Linked DNA regions of Homo sapiens: region 1 is linked to region 2. Evidence: fine-mapped expression QTL. A gene starts in region 2. The other region holds a variant in brackets. All regions are shown on one strand. Distances are from middle to middle.

Region 1 (4,387 bases), 37 kb before region 2:
CTTAACGATCTGGAGACCAAAAAATAAATAAATAAATAAAAATAAAAGGATGAAAGGACAGACGGACAACTCAATGACAAGGAAAAAATACAGGTTGAGGTTTAGACATATAGTGGGACAGGAAGACAGGAGGGTGAACAAGCAGACACCAAAGGCAGAGACGAAGAAGGTGCTGGAGGAATGGGTGTAAAGGGACATACTGTTTACTGAACGCCTACCACGTGTTAGTAACCAAAGTGGTGTTCTTTTTGAGCGGAGGATGTAGACAGAGGTGGGTGGGGACGAAGCCGGATAGACTGCTGGGATAAGAGGATGGGGCACCCATAGGGCGGGGCAAGAGCTGCCTAAGAATTAGAAGAAAGAAGGCGTGCGGGGTGGAAAGCCTCAAAAGGGGGCACTGCCGGCCAGGGGTGAGGTTTTAGACAAATGGACATAGGACTCAACGATGAAAACCGGGCTGGAACCAAACAAGGAGGCAGAGGGAGCAGGGAGCTTCGAAGAGCCGGTGCGGGAAGCTCTCCGCGAAGCGCAGCTCAGCCCTGACCTCCCCGCCTGGGGCTGCCTGGCTCTCAGTTCACCTGGATCCCAGCGCGGCGCGTACCACCGGGTGCCCTCCACACCCCACGGAGTCCACGTCCGTGGCTTCGGGAACCGCAACGCCGGACCCCAGCCCCGCGCCTGGGCCATGTGTCCGCGGGCGCCGCGCGGTGCCAGGCGGCTAAGCAGCCCAAGAGCGAGCTGGCGAGCCGGAGTGCTGGCGCCTCGGGTAGTTTTGCCCCGGGACTGAGCGAATCCGCGGGGAGCCCGGGGAGGGAGGGGCTGAGCGGATGATGGCTGTGTTTCCCCGCCCCCTCAGTCGCAATTAGAAAGTTCCACGCCCCCACCTTGAGCAGGAACTCCCCCTTCTCTAGCCTCCAGTCATCTACTCAACTATTCCGCCTCCCCATCACCATAGGAAGCCTTCTTCCAGGTTGGAGTCACCTTCTTTCCAGACTTTTCCAACTTGGCCCCCATCTGCGAGTTTTCCCTCCACTGATTCCTCTCCTTTCTGTTCTCATACCTCGGTGCAAGATAGTGGGGGTGTCTTCCTAGTTATGGGGTCAGCCCCTCCACCTCCTGTCTGCCCCCAAATCTCACCAACCATGTGACATGGAGGAAGGCCTTGTGCAACAGCCAGATGGAGAAGGAAACAATGGCTCTGGCCATCTTGACAGACTGACTCACTCCTCGGCCTCCCTTTACCGCCCCCTGCTTTTCACTCCTCCCTGCAACCACATTCTCTGACTGGCTGGCCTGAGCAACCGACCAGCTGGGTTCCACCAACGACACTTTGAAATCTTTCTAGTACCAGAATATCCTGAAGTGGAATCAGTCCTTATAGACTCCCTTATGTTACAGATGGAAAACTGAGGCCCAAGAATGCAAATGACTTGGCCATCATCTAGGCCGGGGCAGTTATCTCTATGTTGCAGGACTGTTGTAAGGATCTGAAGGACTGATCATGGTGCCTGGCACGGAGTATAGACTTCATTAAGAAAGATTAGCTTTTATTTTCAAAGAGTTTAGCCCCTGGCGTGTACCACAAAAAAAGCCTGGACTAGGACTCTAAGGTACATAACCGTTTTTTCTAATACGCAATCCCCACCACCGCAAGCAAACTTGCATTACCTGACTTGGGGATGGTGGGGGGTCCTGGTTAAATTTGTTTTCAATGGAGATAAGGCCAAAAGTTACCAACAGCTCTCAGACCAGGTCATTTCCATTCTACTTCTGTTGGTGGCCAGTAAAGGGACCAACATCCTAATAGGGCCTCTGCTCTAACTGTGGCATAACCTGGGTGATTTCTCCTCTCTGAGACTCAGTTTCCTCATCTGTAAAATGAGGGTAATATTCCTATGACACGATGGGAATAATGAATGTGCTTTGTGAACGATAAAGGGGTACATGGGTGAAGGTCACAGCCCCTCCCCCCTACTGTCTCCATACCTTGTTCCTGGAATCTAGAGCTAAGCTACTCCATTTGTGAGGGATAAGCTAGAAAAAGGAAGTGCAGTTTCCAGTTGATATGTGCTTATTTGCATGATATTTGCACCCACTTTTCATGAACTCAGTGTCAGAGCTAGAAGGAAATTAGAGGTTAACATGTTGATCTTCATGCCATGCATCCCTTTTCCCCAGGGCAATGGTGGCACATAGCAGGTGTTCACAAAATATTTACTAACTGAATGAATGCATTCTTCATGTGGGGAAGAGGACTTGTCCAAGGTCACACAGTGAGTTTGTTTCAGAACCAAGGCAGATCTGACTCTGCTCCTCCTTCCACTAGGCCATTTCTACTTCATGGAATTATTTTCCTTTTCCCTTCAAATGACCATAAATCAATGGGAAGCCCGTCTCTCCCAGCACCCTCTGGCCTATCAGCAGTCCCCATTCTGGACTAGCCCAGGCAGGACAAACAGCCACTGGGATGCCCCTCTCTGGGCCCAGCTTTCTGCTGCCACCCCGTTGACTCCTGAGTTTCGAGTAGTCCCTGCACTGCGCCTCTCACAGGGGCAGCCCCCTCCCCCACGCCGCCCG[C/T]GGAAAAGGAGGCCTCAGTCAGCTTCCTCCAAGCAGAGGAGTTTCCCTTTTGCTCTCCGGTTGGGCGGGAGTGTGGGACATAGCCCCCGGCAGTGGCAGCGGCCTAGAAGGAAGGGCGGCAGCAGTCACTTCCCACCCTGCTAAGGCATCTCCCGCCCTGTCCAGTCCCACCCCTATTTCCTGAGTTCTGCTGCTTCAGCTCCAGCCAGAACAGTGATATGAAAGAGCTCCGAAGATTCACTTGAGTCACAGAGCCCTGTTGCTGGGAAGGACCTTCGAGGTTATTTATTCCCACCACCTCCCCACTCCAGGCAGGAATGCCTGCTGTTAGCAAAGAGGAGGAGAGGGGGCACCTTACTGAACCTCCACAGCTTCAAGTTTCTCCTCCAGATAATGGACATAATATGACACATAGCTGACAATGGTGCTGTGAGAGGAGATGCAAGAATGGATCTAATAAAAGCTGATGTGGATTGAGCACAAGCTATACCAGACATTGTTCTAAGTGCTTATTTAATTCTTACCACAATGCTCTGAAGTATATATATCATCATCATTACCCCAGTTTACAGTTGGAGAAACTCAGAAGCAGCAAAGGTAATCCAAATTGCTCATAAGTGGCAGTGGCAGGATTGGGACCTCGAGCCTCCATCTTCACCCATATATAACGGTGGTAATCATCCTTACCCCCAGAGAATGATTGGACCCCCTTGAGAGTTACTTGAATTCACAAGTGTTTGTTTTACTGTAACTTTTGTATTCAAGTACCCCTAAGGGCTGAGAGGGAAGAATGTGATGAAACCTTGGGGGGCTGATGATGTAAACCTGAAGTGTTGGCTCCAAGTGGGAATGTCTTTGAAGTCCAGCTTTTATCTTAAACATCCACTTGAATTTTCAGTTAACTCTAGTATGCATCCTTGTTTTCTTATTAAAATTCATCTTTTCCTTCCTTAAGCCTTTGAGGAAAATGTACACTCCAGGAAGAGGAGACATACCGGTCTAATACCTTCATATGCCTCCAGGCCATGGCCTTGTACCCCAGGGGTAGCAGGCACCTGGTTCAGTAAAAGATAGGCCCTTAGTCACTGAGAATAGCTAAGGTTTATGGAGTGTTTGTCATGTGAGCCAGCATTCTAAGCACTTTCTATATATGATTTAATCATCATATATAACTCTATGATAAGCTGAATTATTATTGCTACCATTTTCAATGGGAAAACTGTAGCATAGAGAGGTTAAATAATTTGCCCAAGGTCATACAGTTTGGACTGTCAGCTTTAGCTAGTAACCACTGTACATACTGCCTCTCAGGCCACATGGAGTTTCTCTTACCTACCTACCTCCACCACTTCCCACCAGGATGATTGATTTGATTATTGGCAGAAGCAGGCCTTATTCCAATTAGAAGATCAGCTCCTTGAGGGCAGTGACAAGGGGGCTCCCTGCTGCCCCTTTCCCTATATCGATGCTAATCCTGGGGCTGAGCCATGCACAGGGCTGGTCCAGCGTTCAGATTTGGCAACTGACTGTTTCCTGGCTGGTGGCAGTCTCTTGGGCCTAGCACCTGTTGAGCTGGTGGATACAGCACTAGCATTTCACACAGGAGTCCTCTGCCACACTCTGTGGCAAAGATCTAGCTTTAGAAATGGTTGCCCATCACCTACAGGGACAAGTCCACACTTCTAAGACTGGCATTCAAAGCACCCACAAGACTGCCCAGTTAACGCAGGTGGCATTCCCAGAACACACCTCCTTAACCCACCAAATGTGTTACATGTGCACTTCTCTCTCACAAGAATGCTCATCCTTA
Region 2 (4,387 bases):
TTTTGCTGAGGGCAGACATTTAAAAAATTTCTCACTCATATTTTGTAGGAGAAAGATCATTTGAATCCCCACCCCCACAGGAAGGACACAACAGTCTCCAAATAAAGAATAGTCCTTTGAGTTGAATTAATTTAGTTTTATGAACACTGCACGACATTATCCCTACTTTTCTCTCATTCCACCACAGATGGTTGAAAAATCTCATTCAGGACCCCTACTAGATGAGGACCATGAATCCACAGATTAATTCCAAACCCTTTGGGAAGTAGTCTCTGCTTCCCTTTCTCAAGCTCCTATCCTCTCTAACCCTACATTTGAGCCACATCACGAAAGAAGCCTTTCCCCCAGCCCACTACCATTTGACTGCCTCCAAACTCTAGCTCACGAAGTTCCCTCTGCCAGGCATGCCTGGAATGCCCTTCCCCCACTTTTGGACTGACAAACTCTTCTCTTCCTTTAAGCCTCAGGCTCAGCCCAAATGTGACCTCCTGTGAAACCTCTCCAAGTCCCTCCCGGTGGAATGGATCTTTCCTTCCCAAAGGTCCCAGCATTCTTTCATCCTGTCTTACAGTCAGGCTAGTCGTTTGAAAGTCTTCCTACTGGGTTGGACTGTGGGAAACCACACAGCGTCAAGAAAGGCATGGACTTAGGAGCTCAGATCCCAGCTCTGCCAGTCATATCTGAGCAACCTTGTAAATATTTCTTAACTATTCACAGTGTCTTTTCCCTATCTATAAAAGCAGGAAAACAATGGGTTGTGCTGAGGATCACTGCCACATGAATGAATTAAAAGTGCCTAGGTCTGGTACATAGTGGATACTAAATAAATATTAGTTTCTTGGTTCTTGAGAGTGGAATCATGCTTTACACACACTTGTGGGTTCGGCTGTGCTCATGTATCCCCCATGGCCAGGATATAGTAGACACTCAACAAATATTTACTGACAAACTGACTATTTAGCACAATGTCTGGCATATAGTAGGTGCCTGGTAAATATTTGTCACTTTTCTTATATTCTCTTTGAGGACAAAAGCCATGTCCTTCTTTGTCTTCTTTTAAAAAATGGAGATGGGGGTCTCCTTATGTTGCCTAAGCTGGTCTTGAACCCCTGGCCTCAAGTGATCCTCCCACCTCGGCCTCCCAGAATGCTGGGATTACAGACGTGAGCCACTGTGTCCAGCCCTTTTTTGTCTTTGTGTAGCTCCAGTGGTGCCTAGCACAGAGTATGTGCTTTTATATATATGGATAGAAATTAATAATAATAATAATAATAGATACCATTGTTTGTGTGGATGCTCCACACCAGGCATCCTGCTAGGAAGCTTACACACATTATCTCCTGGATTTGCATACATTTGCTATGTAAACAATAACACCAACCTCATCACCCCGTAAGGTTGGTGTTACTATGGTCCTCATTCTAAAGCTGAGAGGAAACTGAGGTTCAGAGAGGTTAAGTATCTTGCCTTTGTGGCAAGATCCAGGAAGCAACAGAGGCGAGTTTTATTAAAAAGAGCCAACTAGCAGACTTGTTTGTATGGGAATGCAACAGAAGGTCACAGAACTGGTTAAGTGACAAAGGTGAGACTTGAACCCAAGCCTTTCTAACTCCGAGAGCCTCAGGTAGTCTCAGAAGCCCGTCTGGTCCGTTTTCCCAGCTGGTGCGCAGTGGTCCACATCTGCCTCCTTCCCCCCTGAGCAGCGGGATGGGCTGGGGCTGGCCAGTCACTTACCTTCACCTTCCTGAAGCAAGACCAGAAAACGTCCAGCAGAGGCATGGTGGCGCGTGGGGAGCTTCTAGGGCCGGCGGGGCTGTGCCGGGCACCGGCTCCTCCCTCTCTGGGGACGAGGCTAAAAGAGGCCCGGGGCTCGGCGAGAGCCAGCCCGGTCCCTGCGCTCCATGAGCCGGCCCCGCGAGGGGAGAGGCGGAGAGCAGCGGTTGCCGGGGCTCAGCTGCCTCGACAGCGGGCGCCTCCCGCCTCCTGGAAGGCCACCGAGGGAGGGAAAAAAGGAGGGAGGGAGAGAGGCCGGCTAAGGAGGAGGGACCAGGAGGCGGGTCACTGATTCAAACTCGGCACCGTTAGCCAGTTGGCTGGAACGGGACAGCAATGCCAATTGAAATTCCCTGAACATTACAGTTCCCCGGCTCCGGGTGTCCGGCCCTCCTGCCGGCTCCCCTGCCAGCCCCGCCACCTGCATGCTGGCATTGCCTGCCTGCTTGCTTCTTGGCTGACTGACACGCCAGCTCTCCTTGGGGACCTCTCGGTAGAGCCCAGACCACACAGGGCCTGTGGAAAGAGTGCCAAGGAAAAGGGGCAAGGAAGGAGAGCCCCGGCCCCAGCAGGACCGAACAAGGTGTGAATGCAGTCCACGGAAGGGGAAAAGCTTGCAGCCTTAGAAGCCCCTCTCAGACAGGTGCCCTGGCCCTGCCTCAGTAGATTATTCTCCAGCCCTCTGAAGTGAGGACTCTTGACTCACTGTGGCATCTCGGAGAGGCCCCTTCCTCCTGGGTCTCAGTTTTCCCAGCTGTACAATGAGATGCCGGGTTAGAGGTCTCTAAGTATCAAATCTGTTTGGGGTTAGGTACAGGGCAAGTCTCAAAGAAACTCCACTCTGGACAATCACAGTTCCTCTCAGAACTCCCCTGCTGCTCCTGGGAGTCCATAGGAAGTCAGGTCTTGCCCCAAAGAGAATCTGAGCCCTCAAATGCCATTTCATCCATCCCCCTGCCCCAGGGCATAACAGCAGCTCTCTCCCAGCTCAGATAGACTGGGTGTATGCCCTTTTCTGAACATCTTCTGAAGAGATGATGGCTTCCCTCCTTTATCCAGTCCCATGCTCAGGACCCTCTAAGCCCAGAAGTTTAGCCTGAAATCTAAACTTGAACCCTCTGGATGCCCTGAAAGGAAAGAAAGTCAGCAGCAGGCAGTTCTAGAGGCTTTCTGGGCAGAAAGCCATTAAGAAGCAGTGACCCTCCCCCTCTCTCAGCCCCTCCCCAGACATCAGAAGGCAGGGTGCCATGGCTGGTAGCCAGAAGGCTCCCAGGGACCCCATGGCAAAAGGCCAGGCTTGGGTCTCTGGAGGCACATGTCATCATGAGGCCCAGAATAACTAACTCTCCCTGGCCTCACTTCTGTTTCAGAGACCCAAGCTAGTCAGGCAAACAGCCAGGTCCTGGGACCCTGGAAGGTCCTAGGTTGCTTTAAGCAAGCCTCTACCTGCCTTCGGGGACTTTCTTCATCAGTGGCTTTGTCCGGAGGTTTGTCCAGAGGCTCTGTGAGGGTCCCCCCAGCTCTGTTTACAACTTACTCTGTGACCCTCAGTTTCCTCGTTTGTACCAAGGAGGCTGCAATCACTGACCTCACCCTCTCTCTAGCTCCGACCTCAGGGGTGTCTCAGATGTGAGTTCTGTTGGGCTGTGTCGGGAAGATGGTCAGCAAGAGCCAAGGTAAGTGGCTTCCAACCCACGTCCAGCTGAGCACAGGCTTATAAGGGGAAGCCCTCTGCATGTGGGGGAGGAATAACACGAGGAGTCAGAGCCCAGAGAGAGTTTTCTCCTTTGAGCATATGCCCTCCTGCCCTGCAGCCAGAGACCTGAGGATGGAGAACTGGGAAGCAACTATTACAGGAAAAGCTGCCTGCCCTCCTAGGATGGCCTCATAGTCTTTCACTCTCTGGAGTTCACCTCCTTCTTTCCATTCCAGCCCCTGGGAGGAGATGTGTCAGCCGTGCCTTTGGGCATTCATTCAGGAGGCATTAGTGCGCAGCACACCACATTAAGCTAAGAAACCAGGAGACTTCAGTTTCAATTCTGGGTCTCTCACACCAGTTTTGTCTTGAGGTGGTTTTAAGCCATGAACTCGGAAGTTGACTGCCTGGATTCAATACTAGTTCTGTTACTCTTTAACTGGTGACCTTGGGCCTGTTACTGCCTTAGTGTGCCCATCCGTAAAATGGGGAATAATAATAGTACCTACTTCCTTTGGGAGGTTTAAACAGAATGAATTAAAGCATGTAGTATAGTGTCTGGCATAAAGTACGTTCTCAATATATGTTATTTGTGGCTCATTCTCCATCAGCCAGGAAGGATATTGGTGTTGAGGTTGACATACCTATCAAGGATAATAACTACCATGGCTTCCAGTGCTTTGATGAAACCTCAGACACATGGGTTTCATATTATTGGAGCATTTGTTGCTTCCCTGAGGGTTGCAGCTCTCTATGTTTGCTCTGACCAAACCAAGGAAGAAGGCATGTGCAGATTTTTACAGAAATTATGATTCCATAAAAGATTTTGAGGAGATGAGGAAGGTTGGTACATTTCAGAGTACAAAGTGATTTTGGAATATAAAGAATTTCTTTGGGTTGAATTACATAGAAGTTGGT

Evidence for each region. PIP is the estimated chance that this variant, and not a neighbour inherited with it, causes the effect. A credible set is the group of variants that fine-mapping cannot tell apart.
Region 1: its variant is the best candidate, but not a certain one, in a credible set for the expression of STARD8 in whole blood (TOPMed, PIP 0.59).

The regions. Positions count from the first base shown.
Region 1 is chrX:68,682,742-68,687,128 of GRCh38, reverse strand. The region is part of intron 2 of STARD8 (StAR related lipid transfer domain containing 8); the gene reads right to left. Among named protein-coding and RNA genes, the nearest start is that of STARD8, 37 kb to the right of the region's middle. The variant C/T (reference allele first, on the strand shown) is at 2,578.
Region 2 is chrX:68,645,275-68,649,661 of GRCh38, reverse strand. It overlaps STARD8 (StAR related lipid transfer domain containing 8), which reads right to left and starts at 1,996. Exons shown (of 15, transcript NM_001142503.3): 1 at 1,735-1,996. The coding sequence starts at 1,779. It also overlaps the pseudogene COX6CP12.